Homo sapiens: one gene and its partners. The protein of the gene in region 5 purifies or fractionates together with the protein of the main gene of each other region. This does not show direct contact. Each region holds a gene or a part of one and is shown on either strand. Other genes may lie near its edges.

Region 1 (3,349 bases), on a different chromosome or scaffold from region 5:
AGTAGACAAACAGGCTTTTATGAGGCCCAACACCCCTCAAGGCAGTTTCTCCCCCTCCAGCCTAGCTTCAGAGGAGCTGTGTCATCTCTGTGTTTGGTCTCAGCTTCCCCTGTTCCTTCTCTGCCAAGGTGCCTCGTGGTGGCCACCATCAGGGAGAAAGAAGTCCAACCAGGCCCTTCCCAGCACACGTGATCCCAGCTGCCCCCACTCTGAGCCAGGAGAAGGCCTGGGAGAGCAGGATGCTTTTTGGATTTCTGTACATTAGAATGCTGTCTGGCACTCTTTGCTCCATGTAGTTAAAAAAAAAAAATCCTACTTTCTTAAAAATTTTTATATTTTTCTTAAAAATCAAATTTTCTTAATAAAGCATAGGACCTCATTTTCACAGAAAATGGTGACTCCTCATAGACAGTGAAACATGGAAATCTCTTTTTTTTTTTTTTTTTTTTTTTTTAAGACTGAGTCTCGTTCTGTCGACCCGGCTGAAGTGCAGTGGCGCGATCTCGGCTCACGACAAGCTCCGCCTCCCGGGTTCATGCCATTCTCCTGCCTCAGCCTCCCGAGTAGCTGGGACTACAGGCACCCGCCACTGCGCCCAGCTAATATTTTTGTATTTTTAGTATAGACGGGGTTTCACCGTGGTCTCGATCTCCTGACCTCGTGATCCGCCCGGCTCAGCCTCCCAAAATGTTGGGATTACAGGCGTGAGCCCCTGCGCCCGGCTGAAACATGGAAATCTGAAATGCTGCTGGTGTGCCTTCCCTCTACAAGGGGAAGGAAGGGGTTCCCCCATGATGGAAATGCCCCACTGGGCATCCAAGTGGCAAAGTGGAGACACACTCAGGGCTGGTGGCACACACAGGCAGGAGGGCTGGCAGGCCACCTGCAGGGAGTCTGTCTGGGCCACAGGCCCAGAGCAGCCAGGACAGGCCATCACAGTGCCACCGTGCTTCCCCAGCTGCACGGGAGCTGTGGGAGGAGGGCAGGAGAGCATCTGAGGTGGCAGAAGGGGTGTGTGGGGAGTACCCCTGGCACAGACTGGTTTGGAGCCATATCACGTGGCCTTGTTCAGAATGTATATGATCTTTACCTGTCGGTTCACAACAAAAAGTAAGCACATCCCCACATACCCATACGAGGGTTCAGAAAATACATGCTACCTCGGTGTACACAGGCCACTGCCATTTCCACCTGCTGCCTAGTGGCCCAACTCCCAGCGGGGCCCAGCCAAGCAGGCTGCTCTCGTCGCCTCATGCTCCGTCCAGCCCGGGAATTATCCTGCTACCAGCGCCTGTCCTCACCAGGCTGGAGACAAGGCCACACCTGCCCTGGAGGGTGAGGAGGAGCGCTCTGCAGGCAAATACCTCTGCGGCCTCCCCGGGTCCACACTCCATGGCCTGGAAGCCACGACTTTCATTTATTCAAGGAAAAATGAGCGCTGACCTTCCAAACAGTTCCTTGATCACACTGCCTCTCACCCTGTGCTCTGTACAGGGGAGCAGGGGCCAGAGGTCTGGTCCTAGCCCCTCAGAAGGTCCCCAAAGAGGTACAGGCTGTGTCAGGTGCCAGGTGTCAACAAGGGAAACTGCTTTGCCTGACACAAGCGTCCATGGCTTCTGGCTTTGGGGCAGGGTAAAGGGAAACTGACGAAGGGGTTGAGGAGTCCAGGGCTCTGGCTGCTAGAGGGGCAGCCTGGGCAAAGTGGCCAGGAAAGATGGCCCATCTCCCAGAACTCCCTCTTGCTGGGGTCCAACTCTTCCACAGTGCGGCCCCTTCTGTCTGCTGACCTTGGAGAAACCAGGCAGCTCATTCCCTTTCCTTGGACCTGGTGCTACCCTGGGAACATTCTTAAGTCCTCCATGTAATTGGGGTGTGGAGCTTAAACATGAGGGGGACCAGCAGGAGGTCCTGGGACTGGGCTCAGGGCGGTTCACCCTGATCATTGACCCTCTGCTCTGTGGGCTTCTCTTGGCAGCTGACTTTCACGGGACGCTCGTGTGTGCCAAAAACTTCAACAAACCTTCAGCGTGGGAGCTTTTATCATCCCCATTTTACAGATGAAGAAACTGAGGCACAGTGAGATTAAGTAACTTGCCTAAAGTTACACAGCTTATCAGTGACAAGCCTAGGCTGTGAGCCTAGGTGGCCTGGCTGCAGTGAGCACACTAAAGCACTGGGTAGTGTGCATCTTGGCTCTGTCCCCATCAAGAATGCCAAAGGAGAGGCCTGCTGGTGTCCCATCCCACTTCCAGCCCTGATGCCCAAACTCAGGCAGCCTGAGGAAAGACTAGGGGATCCCTGTCCTCACCCAGCAGCAGCACCTGCTGTCCTGGTTTAGGCTGCCTGGCCTAGCTGCTCTGAATTAAATGAGCAGAAACTCCTACCTCAGCCACAGTGGGAATGGACAGCCCCCAGGGTCACCCACCCCCTCACATTGTCAGGCCTCATGTGTCACCTCCCCCTGAAAAGCAGTCTCTTACCTGGCTAAACATTTAGGTTTGGAATTATTACAAAGGTCATAAGGATAATTCATGTGAGCCATGAAAACTCAATATTATAGGAACCGAAAGGACATAGTGACAAGAACCTCCTCCTGGATGCACCACGAGAAGCTGCCCCAATCACTTCACTGTCAACGCTTCTTTCACTGGCACTTGTGCCACTGCAGCATTAAGTGATCAGCCCCAAAACATGCTGTGGAACTCGCCTGGGTCACTGCTGGGTGGCCCATCCCCTGAAGACAAGGTTCAACTTTAAACAAGGTACCTCTCTCTCCCTAAATCGGAGTGACAGGAAGCCGGATTGAGGACCCTATGGCCTGGGCACTGTCACTCCTCACCCGATACTGTCCGCCTCCCAAGTCAAGGCCCTCATGGCCAGTGTCAGGAAGCCTCATGGGGTGTGGTCAGCAGGGCTCCAGAAGTTTTATCTTCAAAGTCACATCTGCCGAGGTTCACCTGGGGGCTCATTTCTGAACCCTTTTCCTACTCTGTTACCAGCAATTTCCTGGAAGCCATGGCCCTTCTCAAGAAAGCCTTGGCCTTAAAATCACTTGTTTGCCATCGAATGTATTCTGTTGTTTCTCTAGACCAAGGGTTAGCAAACTACGGCCGGCTGCCCCTTTGTGTAAATAAGGTTTTATGGACACGCCTGCTGGCTTCCGTATGGTCTCTGGCTGCCTTCTGGGTCCAGCGACAGGTTGACAGAGGCTGTATGGTCCACAAAGCCTAAAATCTTTACTGTTTAAATTTGCTGACCCTTGCCCTCGCTCTTCCCTTACTCAAACTCTCACAAAGCACCTCCCCAACGCTGGCCTGTGCCTGGCCCAGGATGATAATACGCAGACTCG
Region 2 (3,500 bases), on a different chromosome or scaffold from region 5:
ATGACCTTTTTTTAAAATGGATAAAAAAATGGAAAATTTCAACAGAAAATGGAATCCCTACGAAACAACTAAAATGTACATTACTGAATGGAAAAACACAGTGTTTATAATAATTCTCTGGATAAGATTTATAGCACACTGGACATGGCAGGCAAAATGCCTAGTAAACCCTAGGGAACCCTTCTTATATATGGAGTTAGGAATTTGGGGAAGAACTTCAAAATGTCATTCTTGAAATCCTTCAGAACACTTTGGTGGATGCTTTCTATCTCTATATGACTTGTATGGAGTTCATCAAACATGTCTAGAACAAACATAAAAGTATTTGATCTAGAAAAACAGCATATCTGCCTCAAAAGGCAAACAGAAATAAGAGGATTAGAATGTCCCTTTGTAAAGAGTAAAGCAAAGAATTAATTTGGTCTAGCTGTGTTGGCTCGATAACAGATTTACAGCTGATTGTAAATGTCATTACCTACTAAAGTAATGAGTCAAATACTCTCTTTTACAGCTCCCCTTTTACTCTCCTCATGCCTAAAGGATATTTATATACAAAAAAATTGATTCTCAATAAAATCAGCTAAAATAAAGACTGAAAAGAGATTACCTCCTTTCTGAATTTCACTCCATCGAAACTGATGGCGTCTCACAACAGAGAAAACAGAATCATATCCTTCTTCTCGAATCATTTCTGCAACTTTTTGAAGATCAGTAGGATGTAAACATGGAGAAGTAGCTTGAATATTTCCTACAATGTCAACCTCTTAAAAAGACAAGAGAAATGAAAAGGATATTTAAAAAAAAAGTTCCTTGCAAGCAAGTAATATTAAGGTTTGGAATTCAAATGTTAAAACAAGTCTTATAAGATAATAAAGGAAGTAGAAAAGTACATAAAGGTTTGAATAAACTATTAATCAAATTCATACCATTATGATAATTAAGAAATTCTATGATGGCATCTAGTGAGGTAGAGCTGTCTTTTGAAACTTCAGAACTTCTTCGATGAACTTGTGCACCAAATTGTTTGGCCACATTCTCAATTTCATCATGGTCTGTCGAAACCCATACACTGTTCAGATATCAAAAGAAATTAACAGCCAAATCAAAAGAAATCATTAACAATAAAATGGAGCTCTGTAACCATAAAATACAGCTTATATAATGTGAGAATATTTTTTGCACAATGATAATAATGTTACAGATCCAAAGGAGTATAAAATGTAAGAAATTATAAAGTATTTTGTATATAAATATATTAATGAATAAAAATGCAGTCCTAGATATGCTTTATATAAAGAAAGGAACAACAGACACTGGGGCCTACTTGAGGGTAGAGGGTGGGAGGAGGGTGAGGATCAAAAAACTACCTATCAGGTACTATGCTTACTACCTGAATGACGAAATAATCTGTACACCGAACCCCTGCAACATGCAACTTACCTCTGTAACAAGCCTGATGTACCCCTGAACCTAAAATAAACGTTTTTAAAAAGGCACTAGAAGTCAAATCTAAAGAAAATTAAAGATCTTGCTTATTCTCCATCCAAATCCAAAATATTGTATAAAATATTTTAATATGCTTGCTAAAAAAAAAAAAATGGACTTGGCTTAGCCAAACCCTAAAGGTGAAACAGTTTCAAGCTTAGAAGATAATAAATGCCCAAGTCTGGGCTCAAAAAAAATCAGATGAAACAACTCTTTCTTTTTTAAACAACAAACAATGGGTATATAGATGTAGAATCAGCTGGGTTATAGCCATTGATAACAACAAACATGAAGAACATGACTTCATTAGCTCAAAAGAATTTAACTTAATACTCTATTAACCGCAGGTTACACAGTTGCCTATTTAGCCTTTACAAAATGATGAGTAGGCAAAATGCTGTTTTGGAGAGGGGTACCAGTTTCTATTGAAGTTTTGTTTCCTGGACAGTCACAAATTCCCACTGCTAAATGCAGAAGATGTAAATACTACTCTAGCCACAATGTTTGGTCAGGCCTGGAGTCTCACACCTGTAATCCCAACACTTTGGGAAGCCGAGGCGGGTGGATCACCTGAGGTCACGAGATGGAGACCAGCCTGGCCAACACGGTGAAACCCGGACTCTACTAAACATACAAAAATTAGCTGGGCATGGTGATGCACACCTGTAATCCCAGCTACTAGGGAGGCTGAGACAGGAGGATCGCTTGAACCTGGGAGGCAGAGGTTGCAGTGAGCCGAGATCGCGCCACTGCACTCCAGCCTGAGAGACACAGCGAGACCCTGTCTCAAAAAAAAAGACAAAAAACAACAACAAAACCCTGCCATGTTTTTTTGTTTTGTTTTGTTTTGTTTTGAGACGGAGTCTCGCTGTGTCTCCCAGGTTGGAGTGCAGTGGCGCGATCTCGGCTCACTGCAAGCTCCGCCTCCCAGGTTCATGCCATTCTCCTGCCTCAGCCTCCCAAGTAGCTGGGACTACAGGCGCCCGCCAACACGCCCGGCTAATTTTTTGTATTTTTAGTAGAAACGGGGTTTCACCGTGTTAGCCAAGATGGTCTCGATCTCCTGACCTCGTGATCCGCCCGTCTCGGCCTCCCAAAGTGCTAGGATTACAGGCGTGAGCCACCGTGCCCGGCCCCCACCATGTTTTAATAGTGATTTATGCAAAGATATCTTAATGACTTATAGTCTTTGGTGTATGTGTGTGTATATATATATATATATTTGGTGTGTATATATATATATACACACACAAACATATATACACATTATTTTATATACATACAAAATTATATATAACGTGTATATATAATGTGTATATATAATGTGTATATGTGTGTGTGTATATGTATACATATACACACACACATATATATTTTTCCTTTTATCCCACTCTTTCGATATCTACTGAGGGAAAGATGAACTGCATGTTTTGTTTGTTTTTTTGACAGAGTCTTGCTCTGTCACCCAGGCTGGAGTACAGTGGCCCATTATCTGCTCACTGCAACCTCCACCTCCCAGGTTCAAGCGATTCTCATGCCTTAGGCTCCTGAGTAGCTGGGATTAGATTACAGGCATGTGTCACCACGCCCGACCAATTTTTAGTAAAGATGGGGTTTTGCCATGTTGGCCAGGATGGTCTCAAACTCCTGACCTCAAGTGACCCTCCCACCTCAGCCTCCCAAAATGCTAGGATTACAGGTGTAAGCCACCACGCTCGGCTGAACTGCATGTTTGTCTATGCTCAATTATCATGAGTGGAAAGAAAGTGAAAAACTAAAGAAAATCTTCTAACATCCCTGGATTTCATTTATTTATTTCGTTTATTCCCTTTAATATTTATAGAGGGATTTAAATCAAGGGATAAAGTCAGTAAGAAAAAATAATCAAAGAAAGCCTAGCAAACAAGATGAGCCACTGGCTAGGGGTCAAGAATCCCGTGATATCTACTTATGTCACTCTATGCAGGGCGAACGCAGGAGCCCCCATTTTCCTCCATCTTGAAATCTGAAATAGT
Region 3 (3,500 bases), on a different chromosome or scaffold from region 5:
ACCAAATCAAACCTGCTCAGGCTAGAATTTTGAGTATCTTTTTATAACAACTATTTTTGTTAGTACACAACAGAGACAGGATTAAAGTATGGAAAGAGGACCTTCCACCCAGATATAAGTAAAAGTTGGAAACAAAATCTGTACTTTGTTAACTAGTTTATTTTTCTACTTTGGTAGTATCGTTATTTTTGTGCTCTCGGTTTCTGAGTACAGGTTATTTTGAAGAAGTTAAACACAAACAAATAAACGAAAATATCTACTTATTGGTCTAGTTGTTGTTAAGGGACTCTGTTTCTCATGCAAATTATGAGAAATAGATAATCTTACTAAGCTCATTATTTTGTGTCTGAGAATTAAGAAAAAGTCTAAACTGTAAAAAAAGCATTTCTAGAAAAGTAAAGTGAACTGAAATGTAGAAACGAATGATGCAGACTAAGGGGCCCAGTGAGGGCAACATAGTATGTAAAACGAATACCTTTCAGAACTCGTGGTTTGAACTATTTTCTTAAATATAGTTAGATGCTTTAAAATATAATATGGTTTTAAGCATTTAGTTTAATAATTTGGAGCTGCCTCAAATAATTTTTAGAATGAGTCTAGTGGATAAATAAATATATTAATGTCACATACATATGCATTAAACCATAATTGATGCTTTATCCTTACCAGTTGGGGAACAAGTTTGGTGTATCTGGCTTTACCTGGCTTAGAGTTTTTATTCTGACTTACTTAGCTGAATATCAAATTGCACATCCAATATGCTTTGTTATAAGGACCACAGACTAGACACACAGTACTTATTTATGTGAGGGAATAAGCTTAGCAGAATTAATGGATCAAGGGAAAAAAAAGTAAAGTTAACATGTCTGCTGTAATCTTACAATACATTCTGTTACTCTCCTGGAAGTCTTCGTTGTCTTTGTCAACTTTCTCTGGTTCTGAGCAGTAGGTTTTAATGTTGTCTTCTAGGTACCAGCTGAAATTTTCATCCACCACAGAAAACATCACCACAAATTCTCGGTCAATATGTTTTTCTTTTTCTTTATCTAGAGAATCTGGAGTTAAAGTTACTATTTTAGCAAGACTAAACTTTTAGCATGTATTTTGATTTATGTTTTCAGGTGATTTATAGTTTTTAAAAATGTTAGTATTTATTTTTTCGAATAAATCACAAGTCTGGACCAGTCACTCCTGTTTTACAGACAGAAACACTCAGGGAATTTTTATGATCAGTATCTGGTGCTTGGAAGACACTCCTGTGTCTGGATGTCCACTGACCACATAACTATTAAATGCTTTTTGGCAAATGGGAAGATTGGAATTCAAAGTTGTGCGTCTATTTTCTGGTGCATATAGCCACAAACAGAGACAAGTCTTTACAGGTAACGATTGTTCAAGTTAGAATTGTATTTCAGGCTCTTGAGCTCCGTTGTCTTTTTCATGATGTTAGAAATAAATACTATGATATTATGTTTACCAATATAGTATGAGTAACTACAGATCTATCACCGTGGAGTGCCCTTTTGGTAGTCACATTTGGTAAAGTCATATGTCTCTTCAGCACCACTGTTGGAAGTTAGATACAGCAAACTGAACCCTGAGAGAATATATTTCTTTCACATTACCTTCATTGGCATTTTCCCCGTAGGAATGCTTGTTCTATTTATCCCTTCTTCTCCTAGTCCTGCCTGGCTCTTCCCTTCCTTTTTTTCTACTTACCACCTCTCTACCTTACCTGCTCAATCTCAGCACAGAAGACTTGATTTCTTTTTAAAAGACAAACTGCCCTGCCCCTGTCTTTTGGTCATATAGCATGTGCAATAAGGAGAAGATGTACCTTTTTTACAGATTATTAAAGGTCCGATGAGTCCTGAGGCAATATCTTTTGGAGCATCAATGTGGGAATGGTAAATCCTAGTCACACAATTGCCATCTCCTTCCCCAGGACTTTGTTCTTCAGTGGCAAGCAACATGTATGTATACTGCTCTCCTGGATATACTTTGTCATCTGCTCTTTGAAAATCTGTGGTGTTATCAGGGTAGATGGCCCCTAGGAAGCAACATGCAATGAAGGTGCAAAGTGAATGTGTTTGAACTTAAATGAGAGAATAGATAGTCCATTAATTCATTCAGCAAACATTTATTAAACATCTACTATGTGATCCTTGGGGATGTGTTATCCTATTTGGACACAGGAAAATGAAAGGCTAATGGCTAGGGTGTGTAGAAGCTTCACAGACATTTTTATTATTTTTTTATATTTGATTGGGTTTTCAGAGAGCATAATGACTTTTTGTTTGCAATGTAAAGAACTCGGGTCATGGTATGGGAGTCTGAGCAAAAAGGCTACCCTCTTCTAAATTCAAAACTTCTTATATGATCTCAGATTTTTGCCCACGAAGTAACCATAAAATTAAAAACATTTCTACTCTCAATTTTGGAAATTTCCAAACACACACAAAGGTTGAGAGAAGAAAATGCTGAACCTCTGTGTACCCATCAAACCAGCTTTAACAATGATCGACTCAAGGCCAACCTTGTTTCATCTGTACCCCCACACACTCTTATCCCCAGTATCATCAAATTATTTTAAAGCACGTCTCAGACATCATATTCCATTCATAAATACTTGAGTATGTATCTCTAAAAGATAGGAACCCTTTTTTTCTTCTAACAAAACCACAGTTCCATTACCATACCTTTAAAATGAATGGTAATTCCCTAGTAAGCCATGAAATCATTAAAAAGAAATAGGATGGCAGTCAGCCTTTTATGCTATGAATGTAATTTATCCCTAAACAACAACAAAAACAAAAAAAGTCAACACATTCACTTTCTAAACCAATATCTCTTTTAATAAGACAACTAATAATGAATCAAATCTAATTTTAAATTAATTTCCCTATTCGATCATTATAATTTCAATGAACTGTAGCATGACTTCAGCATTTTTGCTTATGATAGCAGCTGATAGTTATTGAGGTATTACTATGTATTCTTATTATCTCTATTTTATAGATGAGGAAACTGAAGCTGAAAGAACTTAAGTAATTTGTCCAAGGTCACTCAAACAGTGAAAGGCAAGGCTGGGGCTCAGACCTTTGTCTATTAATTTCAAAGCCCTTGCTTTTCATCACTACAAAATACCACCTTTTTTACCATCATTGTTAAGGACTAAGAATGAGATCACAGGCACCAAACCTTATCTTTGTTTTTCAGGTACTATTTTCAAGGCTTCCAAGTCCTACATTCAAATGACTTTTTCAGTTAATTGTGTCTCATATGTGACTACAGTCATCCAGGCATATGTACCATTTGACTGACATGAGACTACTTATGCCACCTTAGCTGGGGCAGAGTTTATATAAAGTTAGGATGGGAGGTAACAACAGCACAGTATGTTTACATGTAGGAACTTCAAAGATAAGGCAATCCACATCTTGAGTCCTTCTTTCTCTTCCCTCTGGATTTTGCCTCTTCTAGGCTCTGATGCACTTTGT
Region 4 (3,500 bases), on a different chromosome or scaffold from region 5:
TAGTGCAATGGCATGATCTCGGTTCACCAAAACATCCGCCTCCTGGGTTCAAGCGATTCTCCTGCCTCAGCCTCCCGAGTAGCTGAGATTACAGACATGTGCCACCATGCCTGGCTAATTTTGTATTTTTAGTAGAGATGCGGTTTCTCCATCTTGGTCAGGCTGGTCTCGAACTCCTGACCTCAGGTTATCCGCCCACCTTGGCCTCCTAAAGTGCTGCGATTACAGGCATGAGCCACTGTGTCCGGCCAAGATGGGGTCTGATTATGTTGCCCAGGCTGGTCTTGAACTCCTGGGCTCAAGTGATCTTCCTGCCATAGCCTCCCGAAGTGCTGGGATTACAAGCATGAACCACTATGCCCAACCTGTATTTTTGTTTTTTGTTTTTGAGGTACTATATATGTAACACAAAATTCACCCACTTTAAGTGAACAATTCAGTGGCATTTAGTACATTCACAGAATTGTGCAACCATCACTGCTGTCCAGTTCCAAAACATCTTTGTCCCCGCAAAAGGTGACCCCATCTTCATTAGCACTAACCCCCTATTCTCCATTGCCCAGCCCCTGACAATCACCAATCTGCAGTCTGTCTCTATCCGTTTTCAAGTTTTATAGGTAGAATCATGCACTATGTGGCCTTTTGAGTCTGGCTTCTTTCACTCAGCATGATGCTTTGGGGGTCATGCATGTTGTAGCCTAAATCAGCACTTCATTCCTTTTTATGGCTGAGTAATATTCCACTGTGTGGATGCACCACATCATCCATTCATCTGTTGATGGACACTTAGATTGGTTCCACCTTTTGGCTATTATGAATCATGCTGCTATGAACATGAGTGTACACATTTTTGTCTAAACACTCATGTTCAGTCCTTTGGGGTACACATCTAGGAGCAGAATTGCTGGGGCGCATGCTTGTTGTATATTCTTGATCATGCTGGTCACCACCTAACGTTATTTGTTGTGTTTCTCTGGTGCCTTGAGGTTGGAAAGCCTGTCTCTCTTGTGCCCTCTTGTGTGCCTGGAACATGAATGACACAGAAGGAGGAAGTGTCCCAGAGACGTGGCTGAGAGGGAGGAAGGGAGGGATGGGGGTGTGCAAAAGCTTATTGCTCTCTGAGGCTTGCAGTCTGGCAGGTAGGAATTCCCTTCTATGGGATCAGGTCGATCTTTTGCCTTTCCAGTGAGGCTTGTGGGGCTGCTGGGGGGCAGTGGGGGCTGGCCTTAGTCTCTAGCTGCCTTTCTAGCCTGCCAGGCAACGCCCGCATCTGCCTTTTTGTCCCACGAAGGTTTTGTCTTTTGGCCAGGGGCGGGGGCAGTTCCTGTCTTCCCCCTGGCCCTTCCAGCGGTACCACAACTCAAGAAACTGTCCCCAGGAGGGACTGCGCTCCCCCACCCCCGACCGCCCCCAACGTTATATAACTTGTTTGTTCCAACTTCTGTCTTCTGCAACCGAGGGGGAAAAAAGAAAGAGAAAAGCTTATTCTCCTTCCTTCCTATCTCGAGGGATCAACAAAAAACCCGTTGCCTAGTAGAGGTGGTCATTAATGACTGAGCCGAACCTCAGGGATGGACAGAGTGGGGCTGCCCTGGCTGGGGTGTGCGGAGAGGAGGTGGGGTCCTTGCTGCAAGCACAAAGGACACTTGTTCACCAGCTGGCCTCCTCCCAGCTCGGGCCGCGGGGTCTAGACTCCTTGGAGGGAAAGGAGGCTTGGGCCACTTGGGGTGTCGCAAGGGGAGGCAAACCCTCTGGGGAGTCGCACCTCCCCAGCTAAAATTCTGTCACTGTGAGGTACCTGACCGGCAGAGTTTTGGAGGAACCTTCTGGCCTTGCAGCCTCTCCGACATGGGCCTTTGGCATCCACGCTTTTTGGCCCACGCTCCCTGGAGACGCCTGGGTAGGGCCCAGGCTCACTGAGTCATGCTGTTCCTGGGGGTGAGGTGGGGGGATCTGGGTGAGGGATGTGCCAGCTTCAGGCATTTGCATAAGAAGTGGTGGCTAGGCTGGGTGCTTTGGCTCACTCCTGTAATCCCAGCACTTTGGGAGCCCAAGGCAGGCAGATTACAAGGTCCAGAGTTTGAGACCAGCCTGGCCAACATAGTGAAACCCCCTCTCTACTAAAAATACAAAAATTAGTCAGGTGTGGTGGTGGGCGTCTTTAATCCCAGCAACTCTGGAGGTTGAGGCAGGAGAATCGCTTGAACCTGGGAGGAGGAGGTTGCAATGAGCCGAGATCCTGCCACTGCACTCCAGCCTGAGCGACAGAGTGAGACTCTGTATCAAAAAAAAAAAAAAAAGAAGTGATGGCTGGGACGTTGTGCCCAGGGGCTTTGCTGCCTGCTGAAAGTGTTTGCATGGAAAGTTGTGGCCGAGACGCTGCGCCCGGTGGGTTTGTCACAGTCAGTCTGGCTGGGTGGCCTTTGCCTGTTGAAGCTTTCTCCACAATCTAGATCATCTCCACCAAGCCCAGAGGCCTTGGAAGGGTCCAGCCCCCCAGCTCCTGCTAGGAAGACTTAGGGGAAGAGGTGGCTTCCCAAGGAGGTTCTTGCTACTTTGGGGAAGTTCTCATTCCTTTGGCCTCTTGCCCCTTTCTTTTTTATTATTATTAATTTTTTTTGACGTCACTCTGAGCTCAGGCTGGAGTGCAGTGGCATGATTTTGGCTCACTGCAACCTCCGCCTTCTGGGTTCAAGTGATTCTCCTGCCTCAGCCTCCCAAGTAGCTGGGACTACAGGCGCCCACTACCATGCCTGGCTAGTTTTTGTATTTTTAGGAGAGATGGGGTTTCATCATGTTGGCCAGGCTGGTCTCGAACTCCTGACCTCAGGTGATCCACCTGCCTTGGCCTCCCAAAGTGCTGGGATTACAGGCATGAGCCAGTGCGCCCGGCCTCATGCCCCTTTCAGAAGGAGGATTTTGACCCTTCCAAGACGTGGACTCAAGTCCTTCTCCTGGAAAATGTGGTCAGATATGGCGGCATGAGGTGTCTCATCATACCCATGGGTGACTGTGGCTCCCTCTTTATGGGTTGTGGCTGTGACAGATTCCTCATCTGGGAAATGGGGCTCCAGGCCCACCAGGTGGGGGGTGTCTGGGAGGAAACGAGTGGGGAGAGGTCACATGTACCTCATCAGTGTTACTGTGGCAGTGCTGACGCCCATGATGGGGACACTGCCATCCTTCTGCCCGCCATGCCCGCATGGGCCTTGAGGGGATCGTCAATGCCAGCAAGCCTTGATGTGGCGTGCGTGTGTCAGGCAGGGAAAGGAGAGGGTGAACTTGAGCCATTGGGAAGACAGTAGTGCCATGACTTGGGCCGTAAGAGGGACAGCAGCAGGGGCAGCGAGAGAGTAGAGCACGTCCAGCGTGAGCTGGAGAGGGCAGGTTCCGCCAGGAGTAGGCCTGGGAGCAGGAGCTCGGCAGGGCGGGGGCAGGGGCGGCGGGGGGTGGCGCGTCTCAGCAGGGATGGGGGCAGGTGGAACTGGGCCAGCCCAAGA
Region 5 (3,500 bases):
TTATTTGGGGTCCAAAGGGGGCTATGGGTGCAGATCTTGGGGGCAGTTACATGACAGTGGAGAGTGCTCACTTGTAAAACTCCATTGAGATTTCCCTCATGATTTGTGCACCTTTTTATATGTTCCTCTGATTTAAAAGAAAAAAATTAACTTAACAAATAAAGTGTGCAGTTCCAGGCTCTATTGCCCTCAGATCCTTCCACCAACAGAGGGACTGAGAGACCTGAGAGCTGCGGGAGAAATTTTGAAGAGTTTAACAGGTGTTCTCTCTTGAGTGGGCCATTGTGCACATTCTGGAAGGGGGTGGTTATTAAGAATGAGGCAGCCCAGGCGGACACTATTTGGAACTCCTTCTCAGGTCCTGTGGCAGGCAGAATAATTGCCCTCCAAAGATGTCTACATCATAATTCCCAGAAGCTGGGAATATGTGATGTTAGATGGCAAAGGGAATTAAGGTTGCTAATCAGATGACCTTAAAAAAGGGGAGATGATCCTGGATTATCTAGGTGGGCCAATGTAATCACGAGCGTCCTCAAAAGTAGAAGAGGGGCCAGGGGCGGTGGCTTGTGCCTGTAATCCCAGCATTTTGGGAGGTCGAGGCGGACAGATCACAAGGTCAAAAGTTCGAGACCAGCCTGACTAACATGGTGAAACCCCATCTCTACTAAAAATAGAAAAATTAGCCAGGCATGGTGGCTCGCGCCTGTAATCCCAGCTGCTCAGGAGGCTGAGGCAGGAGAATCGCTTGAACCCAGGAGCCAGAGGTTGCAGTAAGCTGAGATCACACCACTGCACTCCAGCCTGGGCAACAGAGCAAGACTCTGTCTCAAAAAAAAAAAAGTAGAAGAGGTCAGGGCATGGTGGCTCATGCCTGTAATCCCAGCACTTTGGGAAACCAAGGCAGGAGGATTGCTTGAGCCCAGGAGTCGAAGATCAGCCGGGCAAGATAGAGAGACCCTGTCTCTACAAAAAATTAAAATTAAAAAAAAATTTAGCCAGACATGGTGGCACAATCCTTGTAGTCCCAGCTACTTGGGAGCCTAAATAAGAGGGTCACTTAAACCCGGGAGACTGAGGTTTCAGTGAGCCGTGATCGCACCACTGCATGATAGCCCGGGCGACAGAGCAAAACCTTGTCTCAAACAAAAAAAAAAAAAGAAGAAGAAGAAGAAGAGGAAGGCAGAAGAGAGATCTGAGGTGTGGCAGTGAGAGAAGGATGCAGCCTGACATTGCTGGCTTTGAAGATGGAAGCAAACCGAGCAATGCGTGCAGCCTCTGGAAGTTGGAAAAGGCAGGGGAACAAATTCTCCCTGCTGACACCTGGATTTTTAGCCCCATGAGAACCATTTCAGAATTGTGGCCTCCAGAACTGTAAGATAATAAATCTGTGTTTTAAGTCACTAAGTTTGTGCTAACTTGTTACAGCAGCAATAGGAAACTAGTACAGACACCGTCTGGGAATCTCAGGGAGGTCAAACGTCACTAGAGTGATTTGCTTCACAGAGATCTTGCTCTGGACATGAGGGCATTTTTTCTATTTCACTAGAAATGGAAGAGGAGAAGCAGCTAGAAAAGTCAACAAATGCTGTTGATGGGGCAACAGTGACTGTTCTAAGGGCCAAAGTTGAGGGTTACTGGCCAGGCGTGGTGCCTCACGCCTATAATCTCAGTACTTTGAGAGGCTGAGGCAAGAGGATCACTTGAACTCAGGAGTTCGAGACCAGCCTGGACAACATGGCGAGACCCTGTCTCTGTAAAAAAAAAGTTTTTACAAAAATCTAAAAAAGAAACAAATTTGAGGGTTACTCAAGGGGAGGGAGAAAGCCCAAAAAGGACAGGAAGGAGCCATTTCTGAACTGAGTTTCAAGAAGCATTTGATCCATAGCCTTGACCCCTCTGGTCTTGAGCTTTTGGTCTTTAAGACATGTGAAAACAGCCAAGCATGGTGGCTCACACCTGTAAACTCAGCACTTTGGGAGGCTGAGTCAGGTGGATCATGAGGTCAAGAGTTTGAGACCAGCCTGGCCAACATGGTGAAACCCTGTCTCTACTAAACATACAAAAATTAGCAGGGCATGGTGTTGCAACTTGGGAGGCTGAGGTAGGAGGATCACCTGAACCTGGGAGGCAGAGGTTGCAGTGAGCAGAGATTGTGCCACTGCACTCTAGCCTGGGCAACACAGAGAAACTGTCTGGGAAAAAAAAAAAAAAGAAAAAAAGAGATGTGAAAACAAACTCACCTAACTGGGAGGGTACAGGGAGAAGCCCTAAACAGAAGTGAGCTAAAACTCTTTGATTTAGATCATTTTCTCTAATACTCTAATATTTCTTTCTTTTTTCTAAATAGTTTTTCTTACCATCATGCCCAATCTAATACTCTAATATTTCTGGCAGATAGAATAATATGTCAAAGATGTCTATGGCCTAATCCCCAGACTGTGTTGCCTTACATGGCAAAAGGGACTTTGGGCCGGGTGCGGTTGGCTCACGCATGTGATCCCAGGACTTTGGGAGGACAAAGTGGGCAGATCACCTAAGGTTAGGAGTTCGAAACCAGCGTGGCCAACACGGTGAAACCCCATCTCTACTAAAAATATAAAAAATTAGCCAGGTGTGGTAGCTCATGGCTGTAATCCCATCTATTTGGGAGGCTGAAGCAGGAGAACACTTGAACCTGGGAGGCGGAGGCTGCAGTGAGCCAAGATCACGCCACTGCACTCTAGCGTGGGCGATAGAACGAGACTCTGTCTTGAAAAAAAAAAACGGGGGGACTTTGGAGATGTGATTAACTTAGGAATTATGAGATGCAGTGATTAGCCCAGATTTTCTAGGTATGGTTTTGTAAGAGGGAGACACGAGAGTCAGGATGGGGAGAAGGGTTGGAAGATGCTGTTACTGGCTTTGAGGATGGAAGAAGGAACCAAGAGCCAAGAAATGCAGTCAGGTTTTAGAAGTCAGAAAATGAAAGACATTTTCCCAAGAGCCTACAAAAGGAACCACAGAGCCCTGCTGACACCTTGATTTTAGCTCTACAAAACCCATTTAAGAGTTCTGAACTTCAGAACTGCAAGATAACATCTTAGGGTTGTTTTAAGCCACTATGTTTGTGAAATTTGTTATAGCAGCAATAGGCAACTAATACAACAACATAAAATAACTACAGGGTATCCCCATGGGCAGTGAGCCCCACTTTCCATAAGTAGATAAAGGTTCCTCTGACAGTACTTTTAGAATAACTTTCCAAAAATGTTAGCTGATCCACCTGCTCAGCCGCTGATTTTTACATGCAGGTATTTTGTGAAATTTTCCATTTCAATTGACTCACTTTGAGTACTTTACACCCTTCACACACTGTTGGATAAATTCACATTAATTATTTCATTTAACCCTTACAACAACCCTATGACATAGTATCACGCCCATTTGACAGATGATATAAACCAAGGCTCAGACAATAATAGTAAGTATAGCTAACAAATATTGAGCATTTATTCTGAGCT
Region 6 (3,500 bases), on a different chromosome or scaffold from region 5:
ATGGGGTTTCACCATGTTGGTCAGGCTGGTCTCGAACTCCTGACCTCGTGATCCACCCACCTCAGCCTCCCAAAGTGCTGGGATTACAGGCGTGAGCCACTGTGCCGGGCCCATTCATTGCCTTTTTTTGTGAACACAGATCATATTTTCCTGTTTTGTAAAAATATATTTTAAAATTTTCGTGGTTTTTTTTTTTGAGTCAGAGTCTTGCTCTGTTGCCCAGGCTGGAGTGGTGGCACGATCTCAGCTCAACCTCCACTTCCTGGGTTCAAACAATTCTTGTGCCTTAGCCTCCTGAGCCTCCTGTGTACCACCACGCCTAGCTAATTTTTTTGTACTTTTAGTAGAGAAGGGGTTCTGCTATGTTGGCCAGGCTGGTCTCAAACTCCTGTCCTCAAGTGATCTGCCTGCCTCAGCCTCCCAAAGTGCTGTGCTGGGTTTACAGGCATAAGACACCATGCCCAGGCCATTTCTTGTGTCTAAGAATTTTGGATTATATCCTGGACATTGTAGATGATGTGTTGTAGACTCTGGATTCTGTTATGTTCTTGAGAGTTTGGTGTTTTGTTTCTGTTAACATGCAGTTAATCACAGCTGAACTCAAACTCCAAATCTAGCTTCCCTGAGGCAAGCATCAGCTGAAATCTGTACTGATCTTTTAAACTTGGCTAAGTTGCTTGGAATATGCCCCATGTTTGTCTAGTTCAGAGGTTTAGGCAGACTTTTTAAAATAACAGCTTAATGGGCCGGGTGCGGTGGCTCACACCTGTAATCCCAGCACTTTTGGAGGCCAAGGTGGGCAGATCACTTGAGGCCAGGAATTCGAGACCAGCCTGGCCAACACTGTCTCTACTAAAAAAGTACAAAGATTAGCTGGGTGTGGTGGCACACACCTGTAATCCCAGCTACTTGAGAAGCTGAGGCACAAGAATCGCTTGAATCCGGGAGGCGGAGGTTAAAGTGAGCCAAAATCGCACCACTGCACTCCAGTCTGGGTGACAGAGTGAGATTCCGTCTCAAAACAACAACAACAACAAAAACAGCTTAATGAAGATAATTCGCATGCCATACAATTCTCTATCTCTCTATCTACTTATTTGAGACAGGGTCTCACTCTCATTGCCCAGGCTGGAGTGAAGTGGTGTAATTACAGCTCACTGCAGCCTTGACTTCTTTGGCTCAGTCAATCCTCCTGCCCCAGCCTCCCAAGTGGCTGGGACTACAGGTGTGCACCACCACGCCCAGCTAATTTTATAATTTTCTGTTGAGATGAGGTCTCATCATATTGCTCAGGCTGGTCTCAAACTACTGGGCTCAAGCAATCTTCCTGCTTCAGCCTCCCAAAATGTGCTGGGATTAAAAATGTGAGCCACCGCACCCACCCCAATTCACTTTTTTAAAGTGTGCAATTCAGTGTTATGTTAGTCACAAGGTTGTGCAAATATCACCACTATCTAATTTTAGAACATTTTCACCAACTCTCCTTAAAACCTTATACTCATTAGCAGTCATTCCCCACCCCCTTCTCCTCTCAGTCACTGGCAGCCATTATTCTAATTCATATTTGTAGATTTGCCTATTCTAGACATTTCATATAAATAGAATTGTACTGTGACCTTATGTGACTTGCTTCTTTCACTTAGCATGTTTCCAAAGGTCATCAATGTCACAGCATGTATCAGTAACTTCATTCCTTTTTATGGTTAAATAACATTCCATTCTATGGATAGATGTCGTTTTTAATCCACTCATCTGTTGAAGAATTTGTGAAGAATTTGGAATCCCTTCTCTGGGGCTATCTTCTTTCCATCATGGGCTTTTTAATGCCTCATGACAAGGCATTTAACAAAACCAATAAACAGGCGGGTCGCAGTGGCTCATGCCTGTAATCCCAACACCTTGGGAGGCCAAGTACAGAGGATTGCTTGAGCCCAGGAGTTTGAGACCAGACTTGTCAACATAGCGAGGCTCTATCTCTACCAAAAATAAAAAGTACCCAGGTGTGCAGCCAGGCGTGGTGGCTCACACCTGTAATCCCAGCACTTTGGAAGGCCAAGGCGGGTGGATCATGAGGTCAAGAGGTCAAGACCAGCCTGGCCAACATGGTGAAACCCCATCTCTACTAAAAATACAAAAAAAAAAAAAAATTAGCTGGGCATGGTGGTGCATGCCTGTAGTCCCAGCTACTTGGGAGGCTGAGGCAGGAGAATCACTTGAACCCGGGAGGTGGAGGTCGCAGTGAGTCGAGACTGCACCACTGCACTCCAGCCTGGCGACACAGCGAGACTCCGTTTCAAAAAAAAAAAAAAGTACCCAGGTGTGGTGGTGGACTCCTGTAGTCCCAGCTTTCAGGAGGCTGAGGCAGGAGGATCTCTTGAGGCCTGGAGTTCAAGACCAGCCTGGGAAACACAGCAAGACCCCGTCTCTGAAAAAAAAAAAAAAAAAAAAAAAAAACAGAGAAAGAAAAACAGAAAATACTGGTGACATAATTTAGGCTTCTGGATAGAGTCCCATCTGAAACTGATTTACTCCAGGACTCTTCAGCTACAGTCTGTGAGGAAAAAACAAAACTTTCTCCTCTGCTGTCACAATATAGGATAATCAACACATAAGATTTCCGTGGCCAAATGTGTGGAGATTTCTCCCCAACACCAATCAATCCATTGAGTCTGCAGTGGATACACGCTGGATGTCCTCTAATTCAGTTTATTTCCAACACTATCCACCCAGACAGAGTGTCAAACCCCACAGGTTGAGGGCTCAGTCCCACGAGCATGTCCCCCCAATTCTCAATGCCAGTCACAAGCCCCCAGTTGCTTTATTTGTGCTTCTGACCAACTGACTATAAATCAGGGTTTCCATGACTCCCTCCTTGGGTTCCATTAATTTGCAGGAGCAGCTCTCAGCACTCAGGGAAACACTTAGGTTTACTGGCTTATTATAAAGGATGTCACAATGGATACAGATGAAGGAAGAGGTGCACAGGGCAAAGCATGTGGGAAGGAGCGAAGAGCTTCCATACCCACCCTGGGCACGCCACCCTCCAGGAAGCTCCAAACTGGGATACAAACCAGATATATATTTTACAATATCACAGAGTCAACAAACACCCCTTTCAGCTTAGGCTAGTCAGAGTAGCTTTTTGTTATCTGCAACTGAGTAGCTTGACTAATAAGAACTTTCATTAAGCACGGTCTGAAGAGATAGCCAATTCTGAGGGACAAAGGCTGCAGGGTAGAAGCATATGTTAACCACTAATACCCAGCCTAAAATTGCTGGCCCTTTTACTATAATAGCATAAAAGGCCTCAAATAAACAAATCCAAATATCCTACACTTAAGCCACTCTAAGATTAATCCCACAGGGCTTAAAACAGTAAGAGCTTTGTTCTGGGTCAAAGGGAAAGAGGAACCTAATACCCCACACTCACATCCCACACTCTCAACCCAGTCACTAGCAATGAGAATCTGCAAACTGGGTGCAGTGGCTCATGACCGTAA
Region 7 (3,500 bases), on a different chromosome or scaffold from region 5:
CATCGGGTTTGGTGACTACCATAGATGTGAGAGGCGTGACAAAGCTGTAGGCAAGTGATAAATTCAGCGCTTGGTTCCGGAGGGCCTGCTGATCAGCATCGGATGCGGAGACACTGTAGGTGGAGCACATCAGAGCTCAGGAGATCCTTGAATTCGGGAACAGATTTTCCATCCAGCCCCTTCTGGGGAGGTCCCTCTGGGAGAATCTGGAGCTTGGACATGATGCCAAGACCCCCCTCTCTCCATGCTTAGGCGCTGTACCGTGCCACCTGTGCCTGCCCCCTAGCGACAGGCTTAGGGAGGTGCTGATGCACTCACGTTTGCTCCAGCAGCTGCTGGATAGTCAGGTATGCCCAGAGCCTCTCCATGAAGTTGTGGAAGATATACTTGGGGCTCTGGAACTCCGCCTCCTGCTCTGCCACACTGGACTCCGTTTGGAAAGTGATGTTCTGTGTAGGCTGGAAAGAGGGGCCCAGCCAGGGCAGGAGCAGTGAGGGCCGGACATCTGCATCTGCCTGGCACTTCTGAGCTCTTCCATGATTGGGGCTGGGGCAGGTCCCACACACTGACTGTGGGGACTGCATTTCCTTTGAGTGGGGGTAAGGAGGGGGCTTAGGGGTGCAAGGGGCTCAGTCACAGAGCATACAGGGATGAGAAGGAGGTGAAAAGGTAGCAAAGTAGCCCAGATACAATAAGGCAGGCACAGCGCCAGGACTCAGATCAGCCAAACCTCTGGAAGAAAGGGATGGGAACCCCAGGCCAGTGTAGAAACAGCAGCAGGAAGGATTTGCAAGTGCAGTGTGGAGCAGGAAGGGTCTAGCTACAGCCTGCCCTTACCCCCAAAGCTGAGGGAAAGGGACAGAGAGGGAAGGACCTTCCCAGGGGTCAGAGGCAGAGTTGAGAACACAACTCAGATGTCATGGCTCCGGGTTTGGGGCCCCATCCACCCCAACGGCTGTCCCTGTCCAAGCTGGCCCCTCTGCGGCTGGCCACCGTGGGACAATGACAGGGAAGCATGCACCCAAGCTCTGTGTGAACCTGCTCCCTCCTCCCTCAGGGAGGGGCCTGTGGTCTCAGACTGACCTAGCTCGCTGCCTGGGAAATGGGCTCCTAGGGCAGAGGAATCCCAGGCCTCTCCCACCAGAGCTCCCTGAGTGGCCAAGAGACCTTTTCACAGTGCGGATCAGATCTGCGGTCTGCTCCCACTGGAGCAGCCTGTCTCTCGCCCAGAGCCTGGCTGGCTTTCCAAAGCTTTGGCACACATAGGCTACCTGCATGAATTTTGCCCCATCCACACATACAGCTATTTAATTGATATTTTTCCTTAAATGAACTTTAAGTAAGCTAACAATTTTTACTTGGCTTTATGTCCATAAAATCTTAGATCTGGGCCAGGTGCGGTGGCTCACGCCTGTAATCCCAGCACTTTGGGAGGCCAAGGTGGGCAGATCACGAGGTCAGGAGACCGAGACCATCCTGGCTAACAAGGTGAAACTCCCTTTCTACTAAAAATACAAAAAATTAGCCGGGTGTGGTGGTGGATGCTGGTAGTCCCAGCTACTTGGGAGGCTGAGGCAGGAGAATGGTGTGAACCTGGGAGGTGGAGCTTGCAATGAGCCGAGATCCAACCACTGCACTCCAGCCTGGGAGACAGAGCGAGACTCCATCTCAAAAAATAAAAAAAAAAATCTTAGGTCTGAAGTTCAGGTCATATTTTTCAGAATACACATTAAAATAAGTAAATAACCACTAAAACAAGCCATGTCTGTCTGTGAACTCCCCTGAGTCACCTTGGGTTCTGTACTTTGGGAACCCACGGCCTCCAAGCTAAATCACCTGCTGACATGTATGGAGTGCTTATCACTGGACATCAATCACAGTGACTTTATGAGGGGGGCATGCGACTTATTCCCATGTTTACATAGGAGGAAACTGCAGTAGATGGAGGTTAAGTGACTTCTCCATGTCTCCTATCTGGGAGGTGGCAGAGCTGGGTTTGAAGCCAGGCAGGGTGGCCACGCAGACCGTACCAACAGTCATGACACTTGGGGACTTGTCCTGAAACAAGGCCATGGGCCCCCAACGCCCACTCCTATTCTCTTCACACACGCTGCCCTCATGCCACAGGGGCCTAACATATTCCTCCATTGCCCCATCTGGACTCTTCCCACCTCCTACTTATCCTTTTGTCTCTGCTGGGCCTCCTCCAGGAAGCCCTCCCTGATCCCCAGGCCAGGCTGGGGCTCCTGGTGCTGCTCTCCTGAGTCCAGGGTTAGATCCCAGCCTGTAGCTGGTTTGTGTGGTGATATGTCCTTGGGTTGTCTCTCCCATGAGGGCACGGAGGGGTCAGCCTCATTCACTGCTGCATCCCAGGGCCTGAAGAAGGCCCTGCCGCAGAGCTTGTGCTCAGTTTCTCTTTGTGGAAATGACAGGGGGTCCCTGGAAGGAGGCAGGGAAGGCTGGGCAAGGACAGGGTGCCACGTGGCAAGCTGGGCTCTTGGCCTGGTTGCAGTGGGGCCCGGGGAAAGCTGCCTGCCCTGCCTGGAGCTCAGTCTGCTCATTTGTGAAATAGGAGCAGCCCTCCCTGTCTGACTGCAACCTGAGAGGGTTGTGGTACCAGGACAGGAAGGGATGACAACTAGGGAGGAATCCCTGCCCTCACCTGTGCTTGCAGGTGCACAGACCGGCTGCCGAGAGCCTGTATGTGCTGGTCTCATGAGAATCACTCCATTGTCTCATTGAATCCCTGCCATGCCCCTGTGTCATCCACAGGCAGCAGAGGGGAAAGCTGGAGCTGGGCAGGTCTGGGATTTGAGTCCAGCCCCTCTGGCTGCAGAGGTGGAGGCTGCCATTCCCCTCCAGGGTGGCTTTGGCCACACTCACCAGCTTCCCACTGACTGTGGCTGTGAGCACATCAGGCCCCCGGTCCTGGAGCTTCCCAGCCACCACCATCTCTGAGCCCTTGAAGAGGAGCCGGAAGTTGTTCTGAGTGACCTCCTCCACGGCATTGCTTGGGTACTCGAAGGTCACTGCTGTCAGCAGTGGGTTGGCCACTTCCTGGTAGAAGTCCTGCAGGGTTGGGGGTGTCATAAAGGCTGGGCTTTATGACTGCCCACTTCTCTGTGCAGCCCACCTGGGGCACACTGGCACCTGGAGCTGCAGGGCAGAGTCTGAGTCCTCATGGATGCGCCGGGCCAGGCCGCCATTGTCCAGTGCCAGCTTCTCCAGGAAGGCATAGCTGACGTCGAAACCGAAGCCCAGGCAGAAGAGGCTGTACCGGCCACTTACAGCTTCCCGCACGTTATTCTGGATGCTCCTGGGGTTAGTCTCCCCTGGACCCAGGGGTTTGGGATGAGGGTGAGAAAATAGTGATTTGCTTGAAGAATATTTCTGGAACCTCAGAGCCGAGGGGCCTCAGTGACCCCCTCTCCCTGCCCAGATCCCACAGCAAGCCCAGGTGCAGCCCCAGCCGCCTCCCCTGTGCAGCACGTCCTGGAGTC

Evidence for each region.
Region 1: the proteins of MATN2 (region 5) and POC1A purify together in Homo sapiens (affinity purification with mass spectrometry; one large-scale study listed by BioGRID and IntAct). This does not show direct contact.
Region 2: the proteins of MATN2 (region 5) and CMAS purify together in Homo sapiens (affinity purification with mass spectrometry, with the first as the bait; one large-scale study listed by BioGRID). This does not show direct contact.
Region 3: the proteins of MATN2 (region 5) and CP purify together in Homo sapiens (affinity purification with mass spectrometry; one large-scale study listed by BioGRID and IntAct). This does not show direct contact.
Region 4: the proteins of MATN2 (region 5) and KLHL26 purify together in Homo sapiens (affinity purification with mass spectrometry; one large-scale study listed by BioGRID and IntAct). This does not show direct contact.
Region 6: the proteins of MATN2 (region 5) and SGF29 purify together in Homo sapiens (co-immunoprecipitation; 2 studies listed by BioGRID and IntAct, with this or other methods). This does not show direct contact.
Region 7: the proteins of MATN2 (region 5) and ITIH4 purify together in Homo sapiens (affinity purification with mass spectrometry; one large-scale study listed by BioGRID and IntAct). This does not show direct contact.

Annotation. Positions count from the first base shown.
Region 1 is NC_000003.12:52,078,075-52,081,423, forward strand, and holds part of POC1A (POC1 centriolar protein homolog A), read right to left. Parts: intron 1-3,349.
Region 2 is NC_000012.12:22,052,718-22,056,217, reverse strand, and holds part of CMAS (N-acylneuraminate cytidylyltransferase), read right to left. Parts: intron 1,070-3,500; coding exon 927-1,069; intron 764-926; coding exon 608-763; intron 1-607. UniProt on the Homo sapiens protein: Catalyzes the activation of N-acetylneuraminic acid (NeuNAc) to cytidine 5'-monophosphate N-acetylneuraminic acid (CMP-NeuNAc), a substrate required for the addition of sialic acid.
Region 3 is NC_000003.12:149,208,330-149,211,829, forward strand, and holds part of CP (ceruloplasmin precursor), read right to left. Parts: intron 2,051-3,500; coding exon 1,838-2,050; intron 1,056-1,837; coding exon 882-1,055; intron 1-881. UniProt on the Homo sapiens protein: Multifunctional blue, copper-binding (6-7 atoms per molecule) glycoprotein. It has ferroxidase activity oxidizing Fe(2+) to Fe(3+) without releasing radical oxygen species. It is involved in iron transport across the cell membrane.
Region 4 is NC_000019.10:18,643,528-18,647,027, forward strand, and holds part of KLHL26 (kelch-like protein 26), read left to right. Parts: intron 1-1,110; exon of another isoform or gene 1,111-1,139; intron 1,140-3,500. UniProt on the Homo sapiens protein: May play a role in endo(sarco)plasmic reticulum (ER/SR) mitochondrial signaling. May be part of the ubiquitin-proteasome system (UPS) and affect ubiquitination and degradation of target substrates in cardiomyocytes.
Region 5 is NC_000008.11:97,872,064-97,875,563, reverse strand, and holds part of MATN2 (matrilin-2 isoform a precursor), read right to left. Parts: intron 1-3,500.
Region 6 is NC_000016.10:28,556,920-28,560,419, reverse strand, and holds part of SGF29 (SAGA-associated factor 29), read right to left. Parts: intron 1-3,500. UniProt on the Homo sapiens protein: Chromatin reader component of some histone acetyltransferase (HAT) SAGA-type complexes like the TFTC-HAT, ATAC or STAGA complexes.
Region 7 is NC_000003.12:52,820,673-52,824,172, forward strand, and holds part of ITIH4 (inter-alpha-trypsin inhibitor heavy chain H4 isoform 1 precursor), read right to left. Parts: exon of another isoform or gene 3,440-3,500; intron 3,333-3,439; coding exon 3,151-3,332; intron 3,070-3,150; coding exon 2,884-3,069; intron 459-2,883; coding exon 319-458; intron 114-318; coding exon 1-113. UniProt on the Homo sapiens protein: Type II acute-phase protein (APP) involved in inflammatory responses to trauma. May also play a role in liver development or regeneration.